Homo sapiens: one gene and its partners. Each later gene encodes a partner of the first gene's protein in a complex. Each region holds a gene or a part of one and is shown in the gene's direction. Other genes may lie near its edges.

Region 1 (7,688 bases):
CTGCAAGTAAGTTACTGGGAAACCTATTTGTCTGCTCCAGTGTTACTAACTGGAAACTTCTTACCAGTTAACAGAATCAAAAACACCTTATTTTTAAACTCCTGTGTTCTTAAATCTCCAAAATTATTGTGCATCTATATAGCATTATAGGTAATTGATAATTAAGAGTAATTATTGTTGATTACTGCAAATCAGTTACGGTAGAAAGTGACAAAGCTTGAAACTGTAACTGATGATTACTTCTCATTGCTCTTGGCTGCTGGTGTCTCACTTATTTCCCATTGGGTGTTTCCATTGATCACTGCCATACTATAGCATGCTGTTTGATGAATAAAGATGACCAGTGTTTAGCACATGACAAATATCCTACCTTGAAGGACACTCCTTTAAGGATTAAGGGTCTTCATTTTGGTATGAGATGAGCCTGGAAAAATATACCAGGAGACATTCTGTGTAGATACAGGAATTACATGGTAATTGATAAATTGAAAGGACAAAAAAGTTGAAACTTGGTTATATCTGGCCAACTTGTACCCCATGACTTCTCTTTATAATTCCTTAGTCTGTCCTGACAATGAAAACAATTTGCTGCCAACATCCATTTTAGGAAATGATGAATAGCATTCTGTGCCAATCCCAGTCATTTAGTGGCAGCTGTCTCTGTATGTAACATTGAAGGAATCTGAGGTTACTTGGGGGTTCAAATGGACCACACAGGCATCACTAGATACAGATATCCTAAAAGTTACACTAAACTTTGGAATAGAGATGACTTAAATAATTACTTTCTTTTGTGTATGTGCCATATTCCATTTAAATGCTTTGCATTTGTTAATTTATTTAATGTTTACCAAAAAAACTATAAGGTAGATAATGGCATGCAAAGTTTGGCCAAGGCAGTTCAGCTGATAAGTGGCAAGTGGATGTTACATTGCCTTTTAGTAGGTTGACAACTAGGAGTTTGCAGTCAGATTGCTGATTCTTACTTGTGCCATTCATGAATAGACATCACAAGTAGGTATGGCTTTAACTACATAGTGGAAAGCATTCACTACTTAGTGGATATATAATAGTTATTGATAATACACATGAGTCTTAGAATTAACCACTTTTTCCTATGTAGGCAGAAAGTGAAACTCTTCACTGCTCACAACAATATGACCAACTATGCTACCGTATGGGCATCAAAAACAAACCTTGAGCAACGGAAAGGGCGAGCTGGCCGAGTACGGCCTGGATTCTGCTTTCACCTGTGCAGCCGAGCTCGTTTTGAGAGGTAAGACCCATTCTTGACCTTTAGTAAGGGATTTTTGTTCTGTTCTCTGTAGGGACAGATGTGTGCAGTTATGTAAACCTGCCAATATAAGCTGATCTAAGTCTTGCCAGCCATGTTGGAATCAGGTGTAAATGTTTCGTAAGAATCTTCATCACAAATCATTTAGAGAATAAGCCAGATTTAGAAATATAGAGACCTAGATTTTAATATTATTTGTGCCTAATACATTGTATAACACTAAGTGGTTACTCCTTAGGCCTGCATTTCCCTCATTCTATAAAATATTAAGTTACTTAACCTCTCTTGTTTCCTCAGTTGTAAAAAGAATATAAATAATGCCTAACCCATAGGGTTGGTATAAGTATTAAATGATTTAATAATGTAAAATACTTTGAACAGTGTATGGCACATCATGATCTCCCAATAAGTGTTTGCTGTTGTTAATTTATACAGGTCAGATATCTCTTTTAAAACTGAAATGCTTGGGACCAGAAGTGGTTTTGGATTTTTTTTCTTGGTAATATTTGCATTGTATTTACCAGTCGGGCATCCCTAATCTGAAAATATGAAATCCAAAACGCTCTAATGAGCATTTCCTTTAAGTGTCATGTCAGAAGTCAAAAAGTTTTGGATTTTAAAGATACATCTATAAGAGCCTTTCTAGTGGCACTAAAATTACATGAACTAGGAAGGTGGGAGGTTGTAGAGAAATGTTAGTATGAGTTATCATCCTACAAAAAGTCTTGTTGTCGTTTTTAACCCATGTTTGTCAACAGGCAAGGCCTGAAGAGACCATGGGTGGAGCTAATAACATTCGCGATTTTGGATAATTTTTTCATTTTTCTTCTCAGCCTAAAAGGCTATCAAGCTGTGAGGATAAGTCAGAAACCACTATGCAACCAGATTAAATTTTGTCAACAGTGTGTATAGTGAACGATAAAAGGTCCGATGGTAATTGTAAAATAAAAGGATGAGGAAAAGGCAGCTCTGTATCCCTGATTACCTTGCTGCAAAAAGTTTATTAACATCTGTGTATACACAAGGAGGATGGTTATTTTATGCTTATTTTCTCTTAGACTTGAAACCCACATGACACCAGAGATGTTCCGAACACCATTGCATGAAATTGCTCTTAGCATAAAACTTCTGCGTCTAGGAGGAATTGGCCAATTTCTGGCCAAAGCAATTGAACCTCCCCCTTTGGATGCTGTGATTGAAGCAGAACACACTCTTAGAGGTACTTACAAATACAAACCTACTTGACGCAGATATTAATCATACCATCTGTCTTGTTCTGGCAGATAACACTTACAAATGAATCAAGATGATGAAGATGTAGTCAACAGGGCTGTGATAATAATAGTAAGGCCTCCAGTCTTACCTTAGATAGTTAGTATAGTCACTGTTCTAATGAGCAATGAGAAGGAAGAAAGGGACAATGTGAGTCTTTAAAAAAGAAAAGAAAACTTAAAAAGGCATCTCTTAACTATGTACTAAAGATCAGAACATAACTTACTCATGATACCCACAGTATTTCATATGAATCTCTTACAACTTTTTTTGTTTTTTTGAGACGGAATCTCGCTCCATTGCCCAGGCTGGAGTGCAGTGGCGTGATCTCAGCTCACTGCAACCCCCACCTCCCAGGTTCAAGCCATTCTTCTGCCTCAGCCTCCCGAGTAGCTGAGACTACAGGCATACACCACCACACCCGGCTAATTTTTATATTTTACTAAGACAGGGTTTCACCATGTTGGCCAGGCTCTTCTGAAACTCCCGACCTCAAGTGATCCACTCACCTCAGCCTCCCAAAGTGCTGGGATTACAGGCAGGAGCCACTGTGTCCAGCCTGGAACATTTATTTTTTCTTGCTAAACTTGTTAGAGGTACAGTGAAAATTAAGGGCATTGGAGCTAGATCTGAATTTGAATTTTGAATCTAGCATTTATCTACTATGTAACTTCAGAATTTTCTCTAGATTTTATTTTTTTTAAAACATTAACAGCTGGGTATCAGACTTCTTATGGCATGTAGAAACTTACGCTGCTATTATAGTTAATACTGTATTTATAGACTTCATATGAATTGTATTTGTTTTTATAACCTACAGGATTTAGTTGTAGTACCTTTATGTTGGGTGCTCCAGATTTTGATTTTGTTCTATTTTTGAGTACAGAGAATTGTTGGCCGTAGACATGGTATTAGCGATTGGCTTGACAAAAGAGGAACTCTAAACTGTCTTAACCTTAATTTAGAGTAATGTTTTGTCTGCCTAAAATTAGTGTTCATTTGTTTCTGCTCACAAAGAACTATCTCCCCACAGAGCTTGATGCATTAGATGCCAATGATGAGTTGACTCCTTTGGGACGAATCCTGGCTAAACTCCCCATTGAGCCTCGTTTTGGCAAAATGATGATAATGGGGTGTATTTTCTAGTAAGTGCTTTGTTTTATTTCTCTTCGTTAAGTGGCAGAATAATTTCAGAATCTTCTCCTCCCTGTAAAAGCAGTATTGGCTCAGATAGACAAAAAAAAAATCCTAAATGTTCTTCAGGGAAGTAACATACCTAGATATTGAGAGCAGTGTAACACTAAAAAAATGAACAGTTCCAGTAGGTGGATATCTGGGCCCAATATGGGGAAAAGGGCACTGATTTCTCAAAAGTTAAAAGCAAGCAGGCCAGGCAATGTGGCTCACACCTTGAATCCTAGCACTTTGGGAGGCCAGGGTGGGAGGGTCCCTTGTTATTAATAGTTGGTCTTGAAAGAGCGGTGTCAGGAAAAGAGGTTTATTTTATCAGAAAATGTTGAAGATTAAGAGATTTGGTATGATGGGGAAGAGAGAATATAAAAGGAAAAATATACTTGGTCATAATTTATGATAAATATGTGGCCATTAGAGCATCAGAGCATTTTTTTCTTTCTGATTCTGAAGAGAGCAGCTATAAAGTTCTTTGTTAAGCCAGTTTCATTGCAAATAAAAGTAGAATCATAGCCATAAAGACTGCAACCCACAGTCGACAGTCCTACCTGAGCTGCTGGCAACAACATTGTGATCTAGTCTGGATTTAACTGTCTTTGTGTATTTCAGCGTGGGAGATGCTATCTGTACCATTGCTGCTGCTACCTGCTTTCCAGAGCCTTTCATCAATGAAGGAAAGCGGCTGGGCTATATCCATCGAAATTTTGCTGGAAACAGATTTTCTGATCACGTAGCCCTTTTATCAGTATTCCAAGCCTGGGATGATGCTAGGTATGAGTAAGATTTGGGTGAGCTGTCTGTAGTTTCTCATTTGTATTTAGTTCTCTGGTCTTAGAGAATGATTTCTCATGCCAATTTATTTTAGAATGGGTGGAGAAGAAGCAGAGATACGTTTTTGTGAGCACAAAAGACTTAATATGGCTACACTAAGAATGACTTGGGAAGCCAAAGTTCAGCTCAAAGAGATTTTGATTAATTCTGGGTTTCCAGAAGGTAAGACTTCTTCCATTCTTAAGATATCTTTAAAGTGACATTTATATAGTACATGCAAATTGACAGCAAAGTGTATTTTAGTTTCAAATTTTAGACCCTATGATTTTTATATATTCCCGACTATTTCTTAGTTCTCGTGAACACTGGTCTAGTTCCCAGAATGAGTACTTTGCTGATAACCTTATAGTGGTTTGCAAAGTAATTTATTAGCATTTAGACTTGAAGTAAATTCTACCACATTAAATTTTAAATGACTTTAATTTATACTTTCGGTGTACAGATGATTAAAGGACTTTATGACATCTAACATAGAAAAAAACCAACCCATGTTTCTTGATGAGCTGTAGTACTTTTCTTTTCCAACTAGGTTAAAATATAGAATTACTTCCTAAAACATTGAGAACTGGAATGCATAACCAGAAATAAGACTGTTGAGAGACAGAAGGTAGTTGGGCAAGATGGTAAATTTTTAAAGGCTGTAATTGGAATAACTAAACAAAGTAGTGAGTGGTTCTCTTCTGTCATAAGCCAGCCGAAATTTTAGTTTTTCCTCAAAATTATAAGAAAGGGAAAACTTCATGTGCTAGAATCTTGAGATGAATTTTACAGGTAATGAAACAGGCACCAAGGTATAAATTGTCTTTAATTCATCCAATTAGGAGGCTATAAGACTAGAACTCGTTTGTCTAGAACAAAATATGTCTGTGCTTTCAGCGGTTGACTGTCATGCTTTCCAGTCAGTAGCTAAGTACTCAAAGTGTAGACTGGGTAAAAACGTCAGCCTTCATTCCAGTAGGTGTCCTCTTAGATTATCTCCATCTTCTCTACAACTAACAGCTATTTAAGAGTAGCAGATAAATACTTTGTGGTCCTATCAGTCAAGCTCTTATTCTCAGAGTAGATGGTTGATTGGGGGACTTTAAAAAGTAATCACCCCGGCCGGGCGCAGTGGCTCACACCTGTAATCCCAGCGCTTTGGGAGGCCGAGTCAGGTGGATCACGAGGTCAGGAGATCGAGACCATCCTGGCTAACACGGTGAAACCCGTCTCTACTAAAACTACAAAAAATTAGCCGGGCGTGGTGGCGGGTGCCTGTAGTCCCAGCTACTTGGGAGGCTGAGGCAGGAGAATGGCATGAACCCGGGAGGCAGAGCTTGCAGTGAGCAGAGATGGCGCCACTGCACTCCAGCCTGGGCGACAGAGCGAGACTCGTCTCAAAAAAAAAAAAAAAAAGTAATCACCCCAAGCTTATTTATGGTTGAGTCTATAAGAGAATAGAGACGTTTTCGTTTTCTTATTGTGGAAACTCAGTAACATTACTCCTTGAACTTAATCTGGGTGTAAGGATTCTGAGAAGAGAAAGTTTTACAGACAGGTTATGTGAAAAGAGTGAGGAAGAGTCAGTTCTCTGAATTATCTTAAATAGTTTGCATGTAATGTGAAGATCAGCCAGTTATCTGATTTTTGTTTTCACTGTGCTCCTCTTAACAGATTGTTTGTTGACACAAGTGTTTACTAACACTGGACCAGATAATAATTTGGATGTTGTTATCTCCCTCCTGGCCTTTGGTGTGTACCCCAATGTATGCTATCATAAGGAAAAGAGGAAGATTCTCACCACTGAAGGGCGTAATGCACTTATCCACAAATCATCTGTTAATTGTCCTTTTAGTAGCCAAGACATGAAGTACCCATCTCCCTTCTTTGTATTTGGTGAAAAGGTAAGAAAAGACTAGAAAAGTTTACATTGAAAGTTGAAATTGTCTTTACAATCATTAGGAACATGAATTTTGATTTTCAAAGCACAGTATATAGCGGTATTTGGAAGTTGGAATGTCAACCATTTTGTATTGTCTCTTTCTCCATTTGCAGATTCGAACTCGAGCCATCTCTGCTAAAGGCATGACTTTAGTCACCCCCCTGCAGTTGCTTCTCTTTGCCTCCAAGAAAGTCCAATCTGATGGGCAGATTGTGCTTGTAGATGACTGGTATGGATTTTCAGATGTGAACTCCAAACTGAATTCTTAGAATTACAATATGATGGAATTCAGCTGCTAATCTAACTTAATTATATACTAATTATATCTAACTTAATTATATACTATATACTTAATCTTAAATTGATACCAGTAGAAGCAAATGCATTAGGAATTTGAGCCATGTCTACCACTAGGCACACCACCACTATGGAATCAGAATCTAAGTGAAGCTTGAGTACCCTTTCACATACTCTGTATATTGATTCAAAACTAGTGGTAAGCACTGGGCAAAAATGGAATAGAGCTTAATGGACAGCCAGTAGGCTCAGCCATCATATTCTTGAAAACCTAGAAAATGCCAGTATTCTGGGTCTCTTAAATTCATTATTTTAAAGTCTGGATGATCTGGCTGGGTGCGGCACATCACTTGGGCTCAGGAAGTTCAAGATCAGCCTGGACAACATGGTGAAACCTGTCTCTACGAAAAATCCAAAAAAATTAGCCCCGTGTGGTAGCGCACACCTGTAGTCCCAGCTATTCTGGAGGCTGAGGCAGGAGAATCACTTGAACCTGGGAGTTGGAGGTTGCAATGAGCTATCACGCCACTGCACTCCAGCGAGGGCAACAGAGCAAGACTCTGTCTCAAAAAAAAAGAAAGTCTGAATGATCCATATTGCTGGACTTTGTTTTTTGTTTATTATATATTGCATATATTTTTATTATATTTTATTTGGCTTGATAGACTTTTTGGCTTAAGACTCCTGCTCATAGCTAGCAGTGAATTTTAAGAAGCTAGTGCTGATTATAACTACTCTTCATATCTGTGTTTGCCTAAGTTTGGGGCCATTATAAGTAGTTTTTTTTTTTAATATTAATGCTTAAGAAGTTAAATTTATTCTATAATGTGCCATGTGTGAAGTTGAGAGATAATGGTCTTTTTCTACATATACTCCCTCTCT
Region 2 (7,059 bases), on another chromosome or scaffold:
AGTGAAAAATTAAGATATAAAAATGATAAATTTTAAACCATTATAAATGGACAAATGCTGAAAAATAAACATTTACAAGTAAAATTAATTTTCTATGACAAGTGAAATTATTGATTTTTAATTTTTCTATTTTTTCTTTTTTCATTTTTTTAAACTTTTTTCTTTCCTTTTTGTCTTTCCTTTTTTTAACTTGGCTTATTTCTCCAAGAAAAATATTCTTTTATTTTCATCTTTAAAAAAGTTGGTTTATTCTCTCAAACTTTTTTTTTCCTCTCTGCATGTATTTGTATATTCACATTGGAGGAAAATGGATTATTATCCTATCTTTAAAATGGAGTCAAATGTCAGTGTTTCTGAATTCAGATAATTAAATTCCATAACTAGACCAAACTGTTCTCCAGGAAAAAATAAAGAAGAGGAGGAAGAGGAGGAGAACAAGAAGAGGAAGAGGTATAACAGTATTAATATTACTATGTAGAATATACAATATATATTATATACGATATGTATTATAAAGGATAATTATTAAAGAAAAAACCATTTAATCCTGTAGCTATATTTTTAACTCTTACACAAGTGTAACTCTGCACTAAAGATTTATCTGTCCCAAAGAAGCAATGTAGAAAAAAAATTGAAAATAAATACAATATTTGATAGTAATCTTTAATGTTAACAAAAACAAAGAAAAGAAAGATGAAAAGTTATGGTACCTCAAGTCTGCCCATTTTTATCCCTAACCTAGGAATGTCAGTCTAGATAAGAAATAACCCTTAATGTGAGTGCTGGGCTCATTCAAAAGGGAGAGATGAAACACCAATCAATGTGATTTAGTTCCCCCAACCCCAGCCTAAAATAGCCAGGTCACTAAGGCAAAACTGATTTGGGGGCTAAAAAGATCTGTATCTCACCCCTGTTGTCTCCTCTCTTGTATTCTTGCAGCCTTTGCAGCTTCTGACTATACACACATAAGCCTTTTTTTGGGGGGTGGAGAGGATTAGAATTCAGTAAAACAGCTGATTTTTTAAAAAGAACTAATCAGTTTCAATTTAGCAATTATTGGTAATTTTTAATTAAATATTTAAAAGGATTTAAAAATAGCAGATTGTTCAAGTGAAATTTATATATTCTCTTCTAACGTTATCTTAAATACATTAAAACTGATTTCAGCTAACATTTAGTTAGTATATTTTTACATGGAAAAAAATCAACCTGAAAGTGAACTGAATTCACTGATTATTTTTAAAAATGTTGTTTCCCATTGACTCTAGGATAGTAAAAAGTGGACTGCATTTTATAGGAGTTTAGAGGTCTGGATGGAGATTTTTATGGGGTGTAACTTGCTTTTGTTTTAGGCATACAGAGGCAGAGTAGTGGATATGTCCCCCAGGGAGACAATCTGAGAAGTGCTTTTATTAGCACCTAAAGATTCAAATTAAATGAAAGAAACAGCACTTAAAGTTTCTGGGAACTGGGATGATCTGCCTAGTTGCCCTCCTCCTTGTTCCCCAATATAACAGAAAAGATTTAAGGAGATTGGGGCTCCTCTTTAGGAAAAGGCCAAGAAATACAACAGCCTTTTTGAGACCATCTTTTAGCCCTTTCAAAAGTCTACACACATCACCAAGAAAAGTTCCCGGGCAACAGAGCCACACGTTCTGGCCAAGATAATTTTTTCCCCCCTGGACTCTAATTTTCATCAATTCTCTTTGCTGTGCTGTTTGTATTAGCTTGTTTTTCATTTAAAAAAATGTTTATTGAGTGCCTACTATGTGGCATGCCTGTTTCCTACTCATTGGTTTGTTTAAAAATAATGCTTGTGACCAACAGCTAAGTATTAAGAGTCAGATAAGGGGGGAGGGTCGGAGGTGTGTGTGTGGGGGTGAGACACAGATGTCTCCCACCTTCTTGGACAGAAAATATTCTCTTTCTACTCAACAACAAATAGCTCCTAGTACTTTAATTCTTGTTGTTCCATGGGAAAAAAAAATCACAAAAACAAAAATCCGACAAACACGTGGCTGGGTAGAACAAAACGCTCATTGGGGAGGGTGGGCTCTAAGGTGGTGGAGGATATAGAGAAACCGAGTTGGAAGCCCTCCCCCGCCCCTAAGTCCCAGCCCCATTTCTTTTCAGCGCGCCGGGAAAACGGGGAGGGGGACAAAGGTGCTGCGTGCTGTCTTTCAACTCCCGACTTTTTGAATGGCATACAATCGTCCGGCCGCAGAGCGGTGAGCCAAAGTCGGAGTCAGCTCAGACTCTGCAAACGAAAAATAATAACAATAAAAAAAATTCAAGGCATTCATATCGGTGTAGTCAACACGTGTTGCGGAGTCGGCCCGGGCCGCAGGCGACTGAGACAATGGGGTCGGGGACTGGGGAAGGGGAGTGACCCCCTTCCTCACCTGCCCTCCCAGCACGCGTGCCCCCGCTAGAATTATCCTCCCTCCCACAGAGTCCGGAGTAACACCCCAGTTTTCGCCCTGTTCAAGGGGATTCCAGAATTTCTGGGGGTCGACCCCTCCTTTTTCCCCGTTCCCTGGGCGAGGGGGTTCCAGGGTCTCCGGGCCGCGCTCTCGGCCACCCCTGGCGCCATCCCAGCCTCCGCCGCTAGAAACTCGTTGGCCTCGCTCGCCGCTCCGCCGTGGAGCCGGGGCTTGCCCGTGGACCGCGCGTCCCGCTCTCCGCCGCGTATCCGGGACTCCGAAACGCGCGGCGAGCAGCCCCCTCCCCCACCGCCCAGACGGGGTGCGACCGCCCACGTGTCGCCCCTTGCCCAGTCGGGTCCTTCCCTCGGGCTCCGGGAGCCGGAGGATCCGGAATGAGTTGGTCAAAGCCGAGGGAAGGGACCCAGGCGGATCCGCTTCCCCCTCCCCAGGAACGGCGGGAGGAGGAGGGGAGTGGCCGCCGCCCCCTCCCCTAAGCTCCCGCCCCTCGCTTCCCCGTGCGCGGAGCGGAAATTACCCCCTCCCCCCGCGGGTCTGACCTGGGGACGTGGGCGGGGCTTCCCGCTTAGCCCCCCGCCCTCCGTCCCTCTCCCGCCTTCCCGCCAGGATCGGAATCCTGCACCCCAAACAAAGTTCCGAGACCCGAACCTAGGGCCTAGAGAGCTGCCAGCAGTGTCCCGGGTGGTGCAGGCTCTGGAAACTCCACCTGTCTGTCCCCGACTCTGGGAGGGAAAAGGGGACCATTCAAATCTCCACCCGGTCACTCCCTCCCTAAGACCTCCCCCTTCAGTTCGCTCCGGTTAGCCCTAGCTATCACTCCTCTTCCTTGTCTCCCACCGTTCCTGTCTCCTGGAGTCATCTCCGGCCAGTTCCGCGTGTTCCCCTCAGGACCCCGAAACGTTATCATTTAACAGCCGGACCCCGGGTGCGAACCACCCTTTCTCCCGTGGGGATCTCAAAACATTATTTCCTGCGGCTTCCTCGTTCTCCACTGGGATACCCCGTTCCCAGCTTTCCAGTCCCGCGCTCGCAGGGTCCCCCGGTCCTGCATCCCCGGAGGCGGGGGAGTTTCGTGGGGCTGGCGTGGGGAAGGCGGAGACCCCCCCCATTTAAACATCTAGGGAAAAGGTTCCTTTCTTTTTAAATCACCAGCTCGTGCGACCCTCTCCTGAAGACCCCAGAGTCTTCGGCTTCTCTTTGTCTGTCTCGGCCGTCCCCCGCCTGTCAGTCGCTAGCAGTTAACCGGGGAGGGGTGAGCAACCCCGCCCCCCAAAACGAATGAAAAATAACCGTACATTTTACCCTTTAAGACATGTGAGATCTGGGCTGGACCATCCTCCCCCAGTTTGGGCTGGGGTAGGGGGATGGGTGGGGGCGGGGCGCTTCCCTAGGGGCCAGGTTCTTGCAAAGGGGGAAGGGGCCTGTAGAGCTTCAGGGACGCTGCCGCACCGCCCCAGTTTACCCCGGGGGTGAGTTGAGTTCCCCACCCTCAGGCGGGAGATTATCGGGTTTGGCCGGAGGGCCGAGGGGCCCTGTGGCGTCGGGGGTCTTTCCCTGCAGGGTGGGTGGGGGCTGTCACCACGTGGCTTCTCCTTTTTTTTTTTTTTTTTTTTTCCGCTCCATTTTTTTTCAAGTCGATTTTATTTAGAGGCGGCGCCAGGGCGGCCGCGGAGAAACGTGACACACCAGCCCTCTCGGAGGGGTTTCGGACCGAAGGGAAGAAGCTGCGCCGTGTCGTCCGTCTCCCTGCGCGCCGCGGGCACTTCTCCTGGGCTCTCCCCGAACTCTCCCGCGACCTCTGCGCGCCCTCAGGCCGCCTTCCCCGCCCTGGGCTCGGGACAACTTCTGGGGTGGGGTGCAAAGAAAGTTTGCGGCTCCTGCCGCCGGCCTCTCCGCCTCTTGGCCTAGGAGGCTCGCCGCCCGCGCCCGCTCGTTCGGCCTTGCCCGGGACCGCGTCCTGCCCCGAGACCGCCACCATGAACAAGCTTTACATCGGCAACCTCAACGAGAGCGTGACCCCCGCGGACTTGGAGAAAGTGTTTGCGGAGCACAAGATCTCCTACAGCGGCCAGTTCTTGGTCAAATCCGGCTACGCCTTCGTGGACTGCCCGGACGAGCACTGGGCGATGAAGGCCATCGAAACTTTCTCCGGTAAGAACACAGCCACCTCCCGGAAAAGCCACAACGAGAGCCCCGAACAACGGAGACCCGCACCTTCCGGTTCCTCTCCCGCCAACTCCTCTCTTCCCGGGCCTGCGGGGTTTGGCCTCCGTACCCACCCTCGACCTACCCCCTTCGATGCCCCCTCCCTCGCTCTGCGCCTCCCACCCCCGCGCAGAAACATTCGGGATTTCCTCATCCCTTTCTCCCAGCCTGAGATAAGGAGCTCTGGCTTCCCCCATCCTTCCTCCCCACCGACGGGGCGGGAGCCCCCACTGGCAGTAGTGGGGGGTTGAATTTAGGGACACGGGGATGACCCCTGGCTGGGCGTTATTTCCACGCCCAGCCCCTCCCTATCCGCCGGTGGACGCCCCCCCAGCTGGAAAACCCCGGCTCCCGTTCCTCAGTCTTAGGCCTTTCCAGGCGTGGAAGGGGTACCCGGACCGCCTGCGATCTGTCCGCTTCGCGTGGGGAATGCAGCCCTCCAGCAGGACTTGCAAGGAAGGGGGTCTTGCCTCCCGCCCAGGGCCTGGGGCTTGAGCCATTTTGATTTGAAAGTGGGGCGTGAGCGGGGTGGCGCGGCGGCGGCGGCGCCGGGTCGCCATGCTGCTTCCCGAGACGCCGAGGCTGGGCCGAGAGGCGCGCGCGGTGGCAGTGAGGGACCCTCCCCGCCAGGCCCCGCTCCGCTCCCCCAGGTCCACCCCTTCCCAAACCAGCCCCGACAGGTGACCGCTCCGTGGCCCAAAGCCCGTCTTCCTGGCCAACAGAGAAAAATAAAGTTTCATTCTGCACACTGCCTCCCGCCCCGCGCCCCACTTTCTGAGGAACGGGGAGCCCTTTCTTTCCTGGCTCCTTCCCACATCTGGGAGCTGTGTAGGCAGCGCACCCACACAAATGGCCTCGCACCTTTCCCAAATCGGGATTCCAGAGCGATCCACTCAACAAGCCTCAGTGATTTAATAAAGCAAAAATTAAAAAATGAATAATAACGAATTTACAGACTCCACCATTCCTAGAGCAACCTTTTTCCCATCTGGATGCGGAAGCCACTGCCTGGATTCCTAGGAAGATCTCGAATCCCAGTAACTCCTGAATTATCCTAGTGTCTTTTCCCCTTCCTCTTCCCACCCCCAACCCCTGTTCAAGCTCTCATGGTAATTTTTTTTTTTTAATCTTTAGGGAAAGTAGAATTACAAGGAAAACGCTTAGAGATTGAACATTCGGTGCCCAAAAAACAAAGGTAGGAAAGAGCTCTTTTCGGGGGGGGTGGGGGGGCCGCGGGGGTGTGCTGTGAAGCTGTGTTCAGGGGTCCATAGCGTCTCCAGTGGAAGAAACCCATTACTGGTCTTTCCCACCCCCAACTCCGGATGTTGGGGGCAGGGAGGGAAGATTGGCCAAGATCTTGTAATGGGTGGTTTACAGCTTGTAAAAAAAAAATAAATAAGTTGGGGCTGGGGTAGGCTAAAAGATGTTACTTGCAGAATTAAAGGGGAAAGAAAATCAATAGGGGAGAAACCTTGTGGAGTTTGTTTGTTCAACTCGTGGGGCCGTTTTTTGTGGGGGAACCTTAAAATCTTTGAAGAGTTCAGACTCATGGCGATTTCTGCAACTTCGTAGCAGGCCTCATTTTCTGTTTTTCCCACTCTTTCCACACCATAATTCTTAAGTGGATTGCCCTTCTCCCGAAGCGATGTGGAATGAGTTTCCCGGCCCCCAAAGAATCCCCTTATGCTTGTACTTTATTTATATTTCTACAACAGGCAAAGACTTTTTATTTTCCATGGACCCCCCACCCCCAATCCCTCATATCTCACATCATCCCTCTCCCCAGCTGGATTTTCCAAAGAATATGCCTTGGCTGTACTATCCTTTTCGAGCCCCCCTACCCCCACTCCTTCAGCCCATTGTTACCAGGGGACCATCTGGGGTGAGAGCTTTGTGTTGAGGCTGTGAGCTGGGGCTCTTTGGAGGGTCTAGAACTCCGTGGATGAATGGTGTGTGTGTGTGTGTGTGTGTGTGTGTGTGTGTGTGTGTTCGTGTGTGTTCCAATACCCTCTATCCTCTCTCTTCAGCAAAATGGGGTACCTCCATCATACTTACCGAGAATTCATGGTGGATTTCAAATCTTGCATTGAACTCTGAAACCTTTCCTTGAACTCTGGCTGGGAAGTATAAGGGCAGAGTCTTTCTACTTTCTCAAATCAGACTTTAAACATGTTGACAGTGTAGAGTTTGCTCTCATGTCCCAAGCTGGAAAGCAGCCCCCAGTAAATCTTTGATCTTCCTCACCCCCCATTTCAGCTGAAAACTTGGTACATTTCAGGATAGTCTCTGGCCTTTTCCGGGTAGATGGGAGATGATGACTGCTTTTTCTGGGGGACCATTAAGAGGGCCTAGAAAGTTTAATGTGAGATAAAAATCTGTTCAGTTGCTTAGCTTGATATTTAAGTAACTT
Region 3 (8,041 bases), about 62 Mb from region 1:
TATCATGGGGGATTAGGTTTCAACACAGGACTTTTGTGGGGACACAAACGTTCAGTCCATAGCAGAAAGCAAAAGCCAAAGTCCTTTACAAAACCACCCACGAGGCTGCTGGTGATCTGTGTTTTCCTCTCTCCCCTCTCTCCTCTCCTACCCACTCCCATCATTCCCCGCAGGCCTGAATTCTTTTGTCTTCCTCCCCCAACCTCCCCAGCTTTATGGAGGTATAATTGGTATACGATAACTGCATATAGGCCGGGCACGGTGGCTCACGCCTGTAATCCTAGCACTCTGGGAGGCCGAGATGGGTGGATTGCCTGAGCTCAGTAGTTCACGACCAGCCTGGGCAACATGGTGAAACCCTGTCTCTACAAAAATACAAAAAAAAAAAAAAAAAAAAAATCAGCCGAGGGTGGTGGTGAACGCCTGTGATCCCAGCTACGAGGGAGGCTGAGGCACAAGAATTGCTTGAACCCGGGAGGCGGGGGTTGTAGTGAGCTGAGACGGTTCCACTGCACTCCAGCCTGGGCAACAAAGTGAAACTTTGTCTCAAAAAAAAAGAAAACCCTGCATATAACTAATAAATCTATACATATTTGGTGAGTTTGGACAGACATACACACGCATGCTACCATCACCACATTCAGGAAAATGAACATATCCATTACCTCCAACAGTTTCCTTGTGTACCTTTGTCCTTTTTTTTCTTTTTCATTTTCCCTTTTTTTTTTTTTTTGAGGTGGAGTTTTGCTCTTGTTGCCCAGGCTGGAGTGCAATGGCGCAATCTCGGCTCACCGCAACCTCTGCCTCCAAGGCTCAAGCGATTCTCCTGCCTGAGCCCCTCTAGTAGCTGGGATTACAGGCGCCTGCCACCGAACCCGGCTAATCTTGTATTTTTAGTAGAGACCATGTTGGTCAGGCTGGTCTCAAACTCCCGACCTCAGGTGATCCGCCCGCCTTGGCCTCCCAAGGTGCTGGGATTACAGGCTTGAGCCCACACTGCTCCCGGCTCTTTTTCTTTTTCTTTCTTTCTTTCTTTTTTTTTTTTTTTTTAGACGGAGTCTCGCTCTGTTGCCCGGGCTGGAGTGCAGTGGTGCGATCTCGGCTCACTGCAAGCTCCGCCTCCAGGGTTCACGCCATTCTCCTGCCTCAGCCTCCCGAGTAGCTGGTATTACAGGCGCACGCTGCCACGCCCAGCTAATTTTTTGTATTTTTAGTAGAGATGGGGTTTCACTGTGTTAACCAAGATGGTCTTGATCTCCTGACCTCATGATCCGCCCGCCTCGGCCTCCCACAGTGCTGGGATTATAGGCGTGAGCCACCGCGCCCGGCCTTTTTTTTTTTTTTTTTTTTTTGAGACGAAGTTTTGCTTTGTCCCCCAGGCTGGAGTTCAGTGGCTCAGTCTCAGCTCACTGCAACCTCCGCCTCCCAGGTTCAAGTGATTCTCCTGCCTCAGGCTCCTGAGTAGCTGGGATTACAGGCGGCCACCACCACGCCTGGCTATTTTTTGTGTTTTTAGTAGAGATGGGGTTTCAACATGTTGGCCAGGCTGGTCTCGAACTCCTGACCTCAGGTGATCTGCCCACCTCAGCCTCCCAAAGTGCTGGGATTACAGGTGTGAGCCACCACTCCCGATCTTGTTTTTTGTTTTGTTTTGTTTTTTTTGGGGGGCGGGGGGGAATGAGAATATTTAACGTAAGATCTTAACGGGTTTTTTTCTTTTTCTTTCTTTTTTCTTTTTTTTTTTTTTTGAGACAGGGTCTCCCTCTGTGGTCCAGGTTAGAGTGCAGTGGTACAATCACGGCTCACTGCAGCCTTGACTGCCGGGGGTCAAGTGATCCTGCTACCTCAGCCCCTTGAGTAGCTCGGACTACAGGCGTACCACCACAGCCACCTAATTTTAATTTTTTGTGGAGATGGAGTCTCACTGTGTTCCTCAGGCTGGTTTCGAACTCCTGGCCTCAAGCCATCTTCCCATCTCGGCCTCTCGAAGTGCTGGGATTACAGACATGAGCCGCTGGGCCTGGCCAGCAAATTTTTAAGTGCAGGATACTTTGTTAACTGTAGATCTCTGGAACTGCCTCATCGTTATGACTATAAAATGTTTTTGAGAAAGTATTGAAAAAATATTTGCTGAATAAATTGTGTGACAAAGTATAGCATTTCCTTTGCTTAAACCTCAAAAATGTAAGCTAGACATGCAGAGCACCAAAACTTTGTAGTTACCTCTCACAGATCAATTATTCATAGGTCATTCTTGAATCATTTTTTGTTATTGAGAATTAACTTGTCTCCTCCGGCACGCGGTATTCTTGGTAGCCTCTAGGATTTGACACAGGGGGAATTTAAATTGTCTTAGAGGTCCTTCAGAGATTTACAGGAAGTGACCTGCACTTTAACAGGTCTCTGTAGAGCAGGACTATCATGATAGCATTAAAAATATAAGAAGCAAAAATGATCAATAAGATGTCACCATTTGTACTTTGAAGTGGTAACATAAGACTATGGAATGGCATATTTCCTCTGTTTGTGAAAAGGATAGTATGATGATGGTTCTTTGAGCAGAAATTGTTTTTCTTTCAAATGTTGTCTAAGACAGCACAATGTAATAGAAAGCCCATTGGTGTGGGGGGTGAGGGTCCCAGCTTCCTGGGCAGTAAAATGAACAGGACTGCAGATCGATCTCCAGGCCCCATCCAGCTCTAAAGTTCTCCAAAACTTTTGGAGATAAAGCCATAGAACTTTCTTGTGAGCATCAAAAGTTGTATTTCATGTTTATTTTTGCAACTGACTTAATGTTCCAAGAGTGACTGTTACAGATCTACTATATGTAGATATACAATCTTTGTTTTCATAGTTTAGTGTTTTCCAGTAAATGAAATTTGTTTTCATATAACTAATATTTAAAGGTGTAAATAATATCTAGGACACATAAATTTAAGGAACCATCATAATTGTATTTAACTCTGATTCATTAAGGGATTAGTTATCTAGTTTGTGAACATGTAAACCCCCTGTAGCTCTCTTCCCATTTCTGAACGAAGACAAAATTTCAAATTCCAGTTTGTGGCTTATTCATAACCTTCAAAATTATAACCAAAGGCTAAAATGAGTTTCTGGCACTGTTTGGAAGTTTCTATTTTGGGGGCTATCCTCACCACTTAACTTGAACTGGGGATTATCAGTAGTACTGTACATAGTCCATTAATTTCAAGTCAAATCATTTCACAAGTGTTAATATTTCACGTATACATGACTGCAAGGTATGGTAGAATGCTTCATAAAAGCTACCGAAAATAAACTTCAAAAATAAAATGTATCAATTAGTTAAATCATATTAGCCTATGGGAGAAATTTCAATGTGTTTACTTCCAAATTTCAAATTAATAATGGGGCAATATTATTGTGCCACCTAGAGCACCAAACAGTGGGTATAAACCATCTCCTTAGTCAGATGGAACACTGGCTGGACACTGCAGATTATCTAGGGTTTAAAATGTTAACTTCTATCACGAATCTAAATTCTGACTTCCCTATCTAAAACTTCGAGACATCACATCTTTTCTTTAAAGAGAAAAAGTAAACTTCTAACATATAAAATAACGGATTTCAAGAGCGATAGTCCATTTTTCTTTTTACAAAATCACAGCCCTTGATTTTTCGTAAACTTTAAGTTTCAGAATAATTTGGTCAAGAGTATTTCTACAGGAATAGGAAGAGAATCAAGTGGGCCTATAATCAAAGACCTAGTTGGGTCTCACCCTCACGGTTAGCTACTGGGACTTCGTAGCTGATGACCAGGTCCTAAAGTGGACAGAACAAGTGTTACTGGAGGTCCGTCTTTGTGGTAGCTACAGAAAACTTGGAAATGCAATTCTGAGGTTTATTCAGGGTTATTAAGAGCATGAGAATAGCTGCCCTGCAAAGGCAGGTACACTAAGGTTTGCAGTATGGAGTAGTAAGCAAAGCCTCTACTTCCCAGGCCCCGCACCCGGGGTGTGGAACAGACAAAAGAACGGTTCTGCCCTTGCCCTTCTCGAACTTAAAATCCAATTCGCAAGGCAGGACTTACACAAATTAAACCAAATACGGTATTATGAGGAAAAGAGCCGCTGCGTGTAACAGTTGCCAATGTATGCTATACCAGTCAAAACTGAAATACGATTTGAAGGAGTTTTAAACGAAGAGCTGGAGAAACACATAAGAAGGCAGATCTAAGATGGAAGAAAAGGCGGATTCGGGTTGAAACGCCAAGTTGAGGACTGAAGAAAGCATTTGGATAAAGCAGCCTCCAAGCTGGGAAGGAGAAAAGCCAAACGAGTATAGCCACCAAAGACCCAGAAAGGCCAATATATCATGCAGTGAGTCGGTTGAACTGAAAGGCGGTTTCCTTTTCCTCCATTTGCTCAGTCCCAATTGGAAGCGCACTGCGCGGCCTCCACCGCGCTCTCGGCCCGGGTTCGGCGTGGGGGCGGGGAGGTAAGTACGGTAATGGGCGGGGCCGAGCGCGGGCGCGCTCCGGCTTTCCTCCTGCGCAGTGCTCCCGTCAGCGCAGGGGGCGGGGCGCCTATATTACGTGCGCGGCGCCGCTCCTGCGAGAGGACGTTGCGTGCTCGCTCGCGCCAGGCGAGTCTCCGCGTCTCCCTCGCGAACTCGGTGAAAGGAATTGGCGCCGTTCGACACCAGGCGGATCCGCTCTGCAGCACGAACCCATCTCCAGCCGCAGCCGCAGCCGCCGCCCGGGCCGAGGAGCAGCCGCAGCAGCCGCCACCAGTGGCCGAGTGAGCGGAGCCGAGTTTGAGGCAGCGCCTAGCGGTGAATCGGGGCCCTCACCATGAGTTCCTCGCCTGTTAATGTAAAAAAGCTGAAGGTGTCGGAGCTGAAAGAGGAGCTCAAGAAGCGACGCCTTTCTGACAAGGGTCTCAAGGCCGAGCTCATGGAGCGACTCCAGGCTGCGCTGGACGACGAGGAGGCCGGGGGCCGCCCCGCCATGGAGCCCGGGAACGGCAGCCTAGACCTGGGCGGGGATTCCGCTGGGCGCTCGGGAGCAGGCCTCGAGCAGGAGGCCGCGGCCGGCGGCGATGAAGAGGAGGAGGAAGAGGAAGAGGAGGAGGAAGGAATCTCCGCTCTGGACGGCGACCAGATGGAGCTAGGAGAGGAGAACGGGGCCGCGGGGGCGGCCGACTCGGGCCCGATGGAGGAGGAGGAGGCCGCCTCGGAAGACGAGAACGGCGACGATCAGGGTTTCCAGGAAGGGGAAGATGAGCTCGGGGACGAAGAGGAAGGCGCGGGCGACGAGAACGGGCACGGGGAGCAGCAGCCTCAACCGCCGGCGACGCAGCAGCAACAGCCCCAACAGCAGCGCGGGGCCGCCAAGGAGGCCGCGGGGAAGAGCAGCGGCCCCACCTCGCTGTTCGCGGTGACGGTGGCGCCGCCCGGGGCGAGGCAGGGCCAGCAGCAGGCGGGAGGTAAGAAGAAGGCGGAAGGCGGCGGAGGCGGCGGTCGCCCCGGGGCTCCGGCGGCGGGTGAGTGCTGCGTTGTACGTTGCGCGCGGCGGGAGGCCCGCGCGGGGTGGGGACCGTGCCCCAGGCCTGCCGGAGCCCCGCAGGGGGAGGGAGCCCCGGGCGGGAGGGCGCCGCGGTGAGGGTGGGGGAGGGGGCGCGGGGAATCCCAGATTAGCCGAGAGGCCTCGGGCTCGGGGCGTGTGTGTGCGCGCGCGCGTGTGTGTGTGTGTGTGTGTGTGTGTCGGCGGTGGCAGCGCCTCCATTATGTGGCTCGAGAGCCGGGGGGAGCTGCAGCTGCCGCTGTAGGGGGAGGAGCCGCGGGCGGGCGGCGGGAGGGAGCCCGGTCGGCCCGCGGTGGCGCCGTCGCGCTGCGTGCGCGCGGTGCGGGCACATGTCTCGGGGGGAGGGGAGAGGCCCCAGGTCCCGGGGCGGGCGCGCTTTGGCGGCTCCTCGCCGCTGTATTGTGCAAGGAGCGCAGGGGCTCGGCGTGACGTCACTTCCGGCGGGAGGAGCCGGGCGGGGCGGGGCGGGGGGCGGAAGATCAGTACAATGCGGCCGCGGGGAGCGCGGGCCCGCGGGGGAGGGGAGCGCCGCCGCGCCGGGCTCGGCCCCTCCCCCTCTCTGCGCTCTCTTCGGGATACACGTGGGCTTCGGGCCTGGGCCGCGCAGTTTTTCTTTGGCTTTCTCGAATCATCGAGGAGACTGGCAAAATTAGTAATGTCTTTAGACTGCGTCACTAGCGCCAATCGAATTCGTAGTTGATTGTTCTTTGAATTCACATTTGAGTCCTCGGTTAAAACCTCAGTTAAAAAGCAGGATAAAGTCGAGCTGCTTTGGTTCTCGGAACGGAAAAGCGTTTTTTTGTTGTTTAGAGGCTTGGCCTTTATGGGGCTCGTGTGTGTTTTAGGGGACGGCAAAACAGAACAGAAAGGCGGAGATAAAAAGAGGGGTGTTAAAAGACCACGAGAAGATCATGGCCGTGGATATTTTGAGTACATTGAAGAGAACAAGTATAGCAGGTATAGGATGCTCACCTAGTTTTACTCATCCCTTATTCGTTCGTTGATCGGAAAGCTGTATCAGGAGACAATTCTGTCTTTCAGAGCCAAATCTCCTCAGCCACCTGTTGAAGAAGAAGATGAACACTTCGATGACACAGTGGTTTGTCTTGATACTTGTAAGTGAAGCTGTTTCTCCCCAATTATGAAATGCGGTGATGGTGGTTTTTTTTTTTTTTTTTTTAGAAGTCTTAATGCTTAAGTGCAGCAAAACTTGGGTTAGTTTTTTTAAAAGCAGGAAGATAATGGTTTACATTCAGAACCTAGTAGTTTAATATTTAGCACGTCATCAGTTGTATTAAGTGGATTATTTTACAGGCTCTAGGAGTTTCGTATTTTTATGACTTGAAAGTTCTCATTCTTAGGAAATGTAAAATTAATGCCAGTTTTTGACTAGCTAACGGAAACTTGTAACACTACCTATAATTTAGCCTTACAGGCTTCTACAATAAAGTAATTCATTTTTTTGTGGAATTATATTAAGTGAGCTATTTGGGCTAGTTAAATATTTACTAATGACTTCTCCCATTAGCACACAAGTATATTCCCTATTTTAAAAGATTGTAATATTACTTTTTCAATAACTGCTCTTTTGTTCTCAATTCCAGTTCAGTAGCTGCTGCTTTAAACATAAGTTGATTTCTTCCAAAGACCTGAGGCAGCAGCAGTGGGCTATCACTGGGCCACTAGCTTTCTTCAGCAGCGAATGGTATCAATGGCAGTGCAGCACTGTAAATACTGCTACTTTACCCAGTTGGGTTGCAATTGAGTGAGAAAGTATTGCAAACCTCTAAGTGGGCTTTGACTGTCAGACTTGTTTTTTTTTTTTTTTTTTTTGTTACAAAAAAACGTAGTTGGTTTAGTGATGAGAATGTACAACTCTGGGTGTGATAAATAGACCAAAGGATAAAAATAACTGTTTCAAAAGTATCAGCTATGGTGTCAGCCTGCTGTGTTAGATGGAAGGCATTGGAGCTTAGCTTCTCATGTTTTCTTGTACAAATTGGCTTTATTCAGATTTGTAAGAGTGTCAATGTAAAACTCTTTCTTACTGGAATATCCTTTACAGAAGGTTGAGATAGTCATCTGAGCCTTTTTAAAAGAAAAAACTGCAGGTGAAAAAGGAGTTAGTTGATGTGAAAGTTTTAGTGAAATTCTGGGTTGTATAAATAAGTTGCTAGGAATTGGCAAGGTAGTGAAGTGGTGACTCACACAGGTAATGTAATTGTTAGATTTTTTAGCAAATCAGGAATATGTCAATATAAGTACAATGTTGAATTCAAACAATCTGTTGAATTAAATTCTGTTGATTAGAATAACTCTAATTTAAGAAAAATTCCAAACTGTAGATTTATTTTTCTCTGATCAGTAAAAAGAAAATGAGTTCCAGCTTGACTTTAGCTGTTCAAGTGAGAAGTCTGAGGAAGTGCATGTTAATGAGCCAGTGACCCATAGGTAGCTGGGTTAAAGACACTTTGGATT
Region 4 (7,688 bases), about 140 Mb from region 1:
GATTGCAGGTTTTGTATGTGTTGAAGAAGTTTTAGCATGTGCCTTGTTTCGCTGCATTTTTTTTAAGTAGGCATAGGTTATGACATTTTTTGAAATCAACAGTTTTGTCCAGAATAAGAGTAATATCTTTACATTTTTTAAGTATTTAGTCCATGAGATACTGTTCATTGAATATCTCTATTCTGAATTGGAATCAACTCAATTGGTCATCCTCCAGGGCAAGTTATGAATTGGCTTTTGATGGTCCTTTGTTTGGACTATCCTAACCTCAATTATTTTGTCAAATTAACTGGTTAAAATGTTCTTTATGCTTCTGAACTGGTTTTAATGATTCTGGGACTTTTTTAATAAGATGCTGTAAAATCTGACTCCAATTAAATACAGGGAAGATTTGCTTTAATTAAGGAAAATGTATGTGATAAAAGAAATCACTTTGGAAGCTAGCAGTTGGTTCTATATGTAGTTCGTGTAGTGGAACAAATAGACTTGGCTGGAGGCACCTGTCTCTTATGAGGGAGGGAGACAGACTGACACATAACGTGCTGTTTTCTGTATAAAGGAGAGGGTGCAGTGTTCGGGATGACTATTGTGACGACTTTTAATTGGGGTTTTTGGATGCGCTGGATTATATATGCTAGGATTGTAAGGAATTTTTATAATTACAATATTGTATGTAAATTTTCTGCCTTTAAAGACATAATTTCATTGTAAATGTGTTTATTCCAGCCTGAATTACCACCTGATGAATTGTTACAACCTTGTTAGAATTAATTCATGAAAGGGCTTCTCCCTGATGGTTATATTGTGAAGAAGGTGCTAAGTAACATGAGCATAGAGCTTTTAAAAATAGCAGAAGTTTTGGCTTTATTTTGTTAGACTGTGTAATCTAGAAATTCTAAGAAATTCATTGAGTTATTCTTTTGTGAACTGTGTCTACAAAACATAATCGGAGAATGTGACTAGAGGGGTTTATTAGCTCCCCCCAGATTACTGTTGAATTTTGTTAGTGGTTGAGTATTGATCCATATTCACCAAAGATTACCATGAATTGGCAACAGTTTATAGTGACCAGAATAGGAATATTTTTCTGTTTCCAGAGTACTTAAAATGTTTAAATTAATAATTCTTAATGTTTTGAGGTGAAAGAATTTGGAGCAGAGGTCACAAATTTGTGACCTTCTGGCTAAAACTACTCCCAGATGCTTTGATTAGACAGTACAGTATTTTTTAAAGGAATTGGGATTAATTACTAACATTTATAATTCAGGAGATAACACCAAGTAATCCAGATTATTATATTTTTAAGATCTGAACTTTAGCTGGCTTTGGGGGCCTGTATTTCCACATAAGTAAAAACCACCTGGCCATATTGTCACCACATTTAGGTGGGGTATACTTTTTTTACGACAGCCTTCACGCCTGGCCTCTGTGTATGCATTTGAGTTTATTACCCATGGTCTAGGAAGATGTAATAAACCAAGCCAGGGAAAGGTTTGGCTATCTCTCTTTAGTCACGCCTATCAGGTTTAGTCTCCCTTTGGGGTGGGGGCTCCCTTGTGGGGATTCCATATGTACATAACTGATAGGTGACTTCCAACACATGTTGGTGAAAATAGATACAGCTAACAAGTATTTATACTAGGGTCTATAGTAAGTGCTTAAAATGAGCCAATTTACTTAATCTTTAAAAACCTTTGAGGCGTAGGTACTGTCATTCTGAGGCACAAAGGAGTTGTTACTTGTCCCCATAAGCATAGGTGATAAGTGGCAGGATTGGAACTGTTTTTTGACTCTGGAGTTAGTGTTCACCAACTGCTCTTATGCTGTCTCTGAAATAGACCCTAGCCATTTTCAATTTGGTTGTTGTCCACATAGTTACAGATAATTTCTTAGGGTGATTATTTTTAGCCGTTGAAAGACTCTTAAATGATCCAAGTATGTCACTGGGGCTCTTGTCTGCTGACTTGCTAGGTCCTGGATTTGAAAAGTTTTCTGCCTTTCACTATCTACTTTGTGAAGTTTGGGATTGTTAAAAGTTCTAGTTTAGCATGTAGGTCAGCTATACAAATAAAAGGACTTGCTTAATTCCTGATACTGGGAGGTGAAGAATTAAAGGAGAGAATGTTGCACCTTATCTCCCTTAATCTTTTTTTTTTGTATGGCCTGCAAGGTAAGACTGAATATTGCCTTTTTAAAGGGTGATTTTTCTTGAGATGGAGTTTCACTCTTGTCACCCAGGCTGGAGTGCAATGGCACGATCTTGGCTCACTGCAACTCCGCCTCCCAGGTTCAAGCGATTCTCCTGCCTCAGCCTCCCGAGTAGCTGGGATTACAGGCGCCCGCCACCACACAGGCTAATTTTGTATTTTTAGTGGAAACAGGGTTTCTCCATGTTGGCCAGGCTGGTCTCAAGCTCCTGACCTCAGGTGATCCACCCGCCTAGGCCTCCCAAAGTGCTGGGATTACAGGTGTGAGCCACTGCGCCCGGCCTCTAAAGGGTGATTTTTTTTTCTTTTTTAAAGGTGGCGGTGTAAAGTACTTACTGTGTGGTTGTTGGTTGTTTGAAGTGGAGTCTCTCTGTGTTGCCCATATGGGTCTTGCACTCCTGGGCTCAAGTGATCTTCCAGCTTCAGCCTCCCAAATGTGTGGTTCTTAATAGAAGTGTAAACCTTTGGAAGGATGTCATTACCAAAAATCTCTTGGGCTGTTAAAGTCACACTGATCTTAACTTGATCACAGTAGATCCATTGCTAAGCCACATAAGTCATGGGTAGACCGTAACATAACTGACAAAATGTTTTGGCACTAGGGAAGGTTTAAAGACTTTTCTGCAGGTGCTGCTAAGGGAGAGATGTCGAAGGTTCCAAACTGGAACCCTAAAGACAAACATCAATGACATGTATGCAGGAGACATTAGGAGAGATTTGTATGCTGGTTATATTAACCATTGATCTTAAGCTGGCAAGAAGTCATCCGTGTTCACCAAGTCACTGATACGTGACTTGGAGAATACTAGTAGGTCCCACTCCCTGTGTCCTCCCAAAGTACAATCCTTTACTCTTGAAATCTAGGATAGAGAACTAGTATCCAGTTTGACTCGTGAACAATGTGAGTTTGAACCACACAAGTCCACTTACACACAGATTTTTTTTGATAAATATATTGGAAAAATGTTTGGAGATTTGCAACAACCTGAAAACTTCAGATGAACCACATAGCCAAGAAGTATCCCCCAAAATAAGGAAAAGTTGAGTATGTTGTAGATACTAGTCTGTTTTATTATTTACTACCATAAAATGTACACAAATGCATTAGAAAGTTAATACAGCCATTTGCAGTTGAGAAATGTAAACAAACATAAAGATTCAGGCAGCATTAAATCATAACTGCACGACATTCACTGTAGTAATATTGTACTATTATAATATGTAGCCACTGCCTATTGCTACTGCAGTGAGCCCCTTAAAATGCCATGTGACGCTAATCATCTTCACATGAACAGTTTATCTCTCCAGTAAATTGCATGTCAGTAAAAAGAACTTGTAGTACACAGGTATTGTGGTTTAGTGCAATACTGTAAGTCTTCAATAGCACCATGGGACCCATGCAAAGTGGCGCTAGTGATGCTGAGAAAAGTCATGGCATTGTAAGAAAAAGTTCAGTTGCTCGATATGTGCTATAGATGAGGTCTACAGCTGGAATTACCTTTCAGACAGATGTACACTTACCGTATCGATAAGTGCAGTACTGTACATGTATTTTCTCTTACAACTTTCTTAGCATTTTCTTTTCTGTAGCTTTATTGCAAGAATACAGTATATAATACATATAAGACAGAAAATGTGTTAAGGATTTATGTTACCAGTAAGGCTTTCCAGTCACGAGTAAGCCATTAAATTTTGGAAGAGTCAAAAGTTACAGGCAGATTTCAACTGTGCAGCAGGTTGGCACCTCAAACTTCTATCCACCCTCATAGATACTGAGTTATTCAAGGATACACTGTATTACCTTCCTGTCCCCCTAGTCCTGGGGCTGCAGTTGCTGAGTTTGCTACCCTCCAGTCTTAGCCCTTGGAAACATACAGTTTGTCCGAAGGCAGAATCATAGACAATATGTGGGAAACAGAAGTGAGTCTGTTGGGTGTGAAGGGTGTTTAATAGAGAAGAAATACAAAGATAAGTGGACATTATTATCTTACAGTCATCTACAAGGCTTGGAAATTGGTATCTGGTTGCTTTAGGTTATGGAGCATATAGATGGTAAATCCTGGAGTTTTTATAACCACAGGATTGTAAATTAGTGTATGCAGTTACGTGAATTAAGGTGTTAGACTAGTGTGGTCTGGTGATCTGCAACAAAGTAGTAGTATAAGAGCATTTAGTTACGGATAAATTTATGTATAATAAGTCTTATTTAAGGCAATACTGTGGATTGGCAAAAAAGTTTTCTAAAATTTAGCTTATTTTTTATGTAGATATACAGCTAGGATAAAGATAGTTATGTTTTAAAAGGAGTGGGAGGGGGGTCAAACATGGTGAACATGCTGGAGTAGAGTCCGGGAGTTTGGATGGATTGGGCCATGAAAAGCAAATGCTAGAATTCCTAGTTCCTGTGGCATGGAGAATTATCTGGCAAGCTGTAATTGTCTTTTGACTTACTAAAAAGTTTTCCAGGGAAGTTAAATTTTTTTGCCTTTGTTTTCCCATTTTGAGTTGCATTTTGTCTATTTTTAAGACCCTTACCAATCTGGATAGGCCATAGTATAGGAGTGGTAGCAATTAGATTTTAATTTAGAAATCTGGCTAGTATTAGTGAATAGTAAATGCCCAATAAATACTAAAAAGATTTGAGTACCTACCTTAGTAATGTAAGTTATTAAGTGTTTAGTGTAGTTTTTCTCATTTTGCAGGTAAAAAAGCCAATGAGGCAGCTTTCCTAGGTTACACAGCTGTTAATAGTTGAGTCAAGACTAAAAATCTAGCAGGGCGTGGTGGTGCATACCTGTAATCCCAGCTACTCATGGCTGAAGTGCAAGAACTTGAACCCCGAAGGCAGAGGTTGCAGTGAGCCAAGATCGCTACTGCACTCCAGCCTAGGCAACAAAGTGAGACTCCATCTCAAAAAAAAATTGAGTACTGTTATTTCTTTTTCTTTTCTTTTTTTTTTTTTAAGATCTGCAAAGGGGTTTAATAATGCAAATATCACATATATTTCCATTTTTAACACCATATTTAAGTTTTCCATTTTCTTAACAATAGAAAGTGATAAAAATGTTTTTCCCAATGTAATAATACAAATGGAAAATATTATAGACAGTCATACACTAACCCAATGAATAAGATTCACCAGAAGCAAAATCTATTTTGGGGGTCCTATATTGTTACATATATACAGGGCACCAGAACCACATTTAGACTAATACTTTTTATTTCTAGTTAAAACAATGCAGGGCACTCCTGTGACCTGCAAATCTAATTGTACATATGTATGTGTCAGACTGTGCAGGTGGCCAAGAAGAATAGAAAGAAAGACTTTATCCAGCTTTGGAGTTCAGGGCCTGATTGCCCCAGCTTTAGCCCATAGGAACTTGACAGCTTGTTCATACCTCTCATCTTTAGTCATAGTTTCTCTTTCTCCAACCCCTTTTCTCCCTAACTACCCTGTGCCATTTAGACTGGAAATTCTAACAGGTAGCTTTTTCTTTCTGAATTATCTTTACTACTGTATAATTTTTATTTTCAGAATATTCCTTATTTCTACATCTTGAAGACATTTCTTTCTAGTAGATGGGGGAGCTAGAGCTTACATTCACTGCCGGAAAAGGGTCAGTTCCAGTGTTAATTTCCCAGCAAACACCTGAGAGAAAAACTGAACAGAAAAGAATAGTGATGGCTGGCAGAGAGTGACACCTGCACCCAGAAAGCTGCACTGCAGCTGTCTAATATTTGAGGGTCTCTTTTGTTATAACTGCCAGTTTAAACTAGAGATTCTGGCTGGTTGCAAATTCAAAGCAGATCAATACATTTAAATCACTGGTTCAACAAATCACTCTTTTTAATGGTATAATGTTTTTATTGCAATTGAGGACGTTTTCAGTAAATACCTTGAGCTTGAGGCCCTGGCTAAGTATTCCTTTTGCAATACTGTTTTTACTGTCATGACACTGGTCAGTGAACTGTGTTAGTTTCACATATCTATCTATGTACCCACAAAACACCTCCCTGTCTTTGCAGGAGTGACATTACCCTGTGTGTAATGGCAGCCTTGTGCTTTCTCTGTGCAGAGACAGGGTCTTGCTCTGTTGCGCAGGATGGAGTACAGTGGCATGATTATAGCTCACTGCACCCTCATTTCCGGGACTTGAATGGAGGCCCGGCTAATTTTTTATTTTTTATAGATATAGGGTCTCGCCACGTAACTACTTTTAATTATTTTTATTGCCGGGTATGATGATATTGATATGTGAATACCTGTTGTAACTACATTAGAAGGCATAACAAACAGTCAGAGCCACCACAAAATGGATTGATAAAGAAATGATGTATTACCCAGATACCATGAGTAGCATTATCAGTAATGAAAAATTCTCCACAGAAGCTGCATTTTTAGTGAATTTAATGCGTATTAAAACAGTACAGAAATACATACATGACTCAGATAACAATAAACAAATTTACTTTCTATACCAAATCTTTACATAGTCTTCTAGCAACTAACACCCACCACTTCCATTAATGCAGATAGTGCTCCCTATCTTTGGAAAAAAATTTTATTTTTTTATTTTTTTTGAGATGGAATCTCACTCTGTTGCCCAGGCTGGAGTGCAGCAGCTCACTGTAACCTCCGCCTCCTAGCTTCAAGCAATTCTCCTGCCTCACCCCCCAGAGTAGCTGGGACTATAGGCACACACAGCCACGCCTGGCTAATTTTTTGTAATTTTAGTAGAGACGAGGTTTCACGATGTTGGCCAGGCTGATCTTGAACTCTTGGCCTCCCAAAGTGCTGGGATTGCAGGCGTGAGCCACTGCACCCGGACTGGAAAAACTTTAAATACCCTGCCAGGGGAAGTATTGCCCCTGTTGAAAATCACTATTCTAGACTTTGCCTGTATTTGCCTTTCTTACTCTACCAGTTTTTTATTGTATTTCCCCTTAGAGCCTTAGAGTTTGAAATTCAGTCATATTGGAGAGCAGAACTAATAAATGATGGCTGTAATCTGTTTTTGTGGTGCCTATGGAGTTATGGACAGATGGACATTAGGTACAGCCATCATTTCCCTAGGCAATCCTAATCATCTAGCTTGAAAGGTCAGTTTTCAGTCACTTGCCTTAAGTCGCTTTTACAGTTTACCTGTTCTGTTTTTTTAATTATCCTGTTCCCATCAATTAAAAATGTTCTTATAATAATCCAAGCTATAATTTACAGGTCAGATTTAAAGTTAATTTTATGTGGATCCTTTGATGCATATGTTGCCCCCAGTTCAGCAAGAAGCTAACAGTCAGTAAGCCAGTTTGTCCAGTTCATTGTAACCTTTGTTCCCTTTGTCATTAAACGCTAGAGCTACTACTGAGCTTTTTCTCACTCTGACCTGACGGAGTAAAGAGGGTGAGGCAGGCCACTGCAGGCCTGGAAATCCGTTTCCTTCTCCAGTGGTGATTCTTGCTCCTCGTGTTATCACCTTAATCCCA

The links.
Region 2: DHX9 (region 1) and IGF2BP1 share a complex: the UniProt entries of both Homo sapiens proteins name them as parts of the coding region determinant (CRD)-mediated complex.
Region 3: DHX9 (region 1) and HNRNPU share a complex: the UniProt entries of both Homo sapiens proteins name them as parts of the coding region determinant (CRD)-mediated complex.
Region 4: DHX9 (region 1) and YBX1 share a complex: the UniProt entries of both Homo sapiens proteins name them as parts of the coding region determinant (CRD)-mediated complex.

What each region holds. Positions count from the first base shown.
Region 1 is NC_000001.11:182,876,898-182,884,585, forward strand, and holds part of DHX9 (ATP-dependent RNA helicase A), read left to right. Parts: coding exon 1-6; intron 7-1,123; coding exon 1,124-1,276; intron 1,277-2,352; coding exon 2,353-2,513; intron 2,514-3,599; coding exon 3,600-3,711; intron 3,712-4,366; coding exon 4,367-4,528; intron 4,529-4,622; coding exon 4,623-4,750; intron 4,751-6,241; coding exon 6,242-6,471; intron 6,472-6,622; coding exon 6,623-6,738; intron 6,739-7,688. UniProt on the Homo sapiens protein: Multifunctional ATP-dependent nucleic acid helicase that unwinds DNA and RNA in a 3' to 5' direction and that plays important roles in many processes, such as DNA replication, transcriptional activation, post-transcriptional RNA regulation, mRNA translation and RNA-mediated gene silencing.
Region 2 is NC_000017.11:48,993,326-49,000,384, forward strand, and holds the start of IGF2BP1 (insulin-like growth factor 2 mRNA-binding protein 1), read left to right. Parts: upstream 1-4,059; 5' UTR 4,060-4,420; coding exon 4,421-4,595; intron 4,596-5,783; coding exon 5,784-5,844; intron 5,845-5,943; exon of another isoform or gene 5,944-7,059. UniProt on the Homo sapiens protein: RNA-binding factor that recruits target transcripts to cytoplasmic protein-RNA complexes (mRNPs). This transcript 'caging' into mRNPs allows mRNA transport and transient storage.
Region 3 is NC_000001.11:244,861,098-244,869,138, reverse strand, and holds the start of HNRNPU (heterogeneous nuclear ribonucleoprotein U), read left to right. Parts: upstream 1-4,657; 5' UTR 4,658-4,831; coding exon 4,832-5,522; intron 5,523-6,408; coding exon 6,409-6,520; intron 6,521-6,604; coding exon 6,605-6,678; intron 6,679-8,041. UniProt on the Homo sapiens protein: DNA- and RNA-binding protein involved in several cellular processes such as nuclear chromatin organization, telomere-length regulation, transcription, mRNA alternative splicing and stability, Xist-mediated transcriptional silencing and mitotic cell progression.
Region 4 is NC_000001.11:42,685,092-42,692,779, forward strand, and holds part of YBX1 (Y-box-binding protein 1), read left to right. Parts: intron 1-7,688. UniProt on the Homo sapiens protein: DNA- and RNA-binding protein involved in various processes, such as translational repression, RNA stabilization, mRNA splicing, DNA repair and transcription regulation.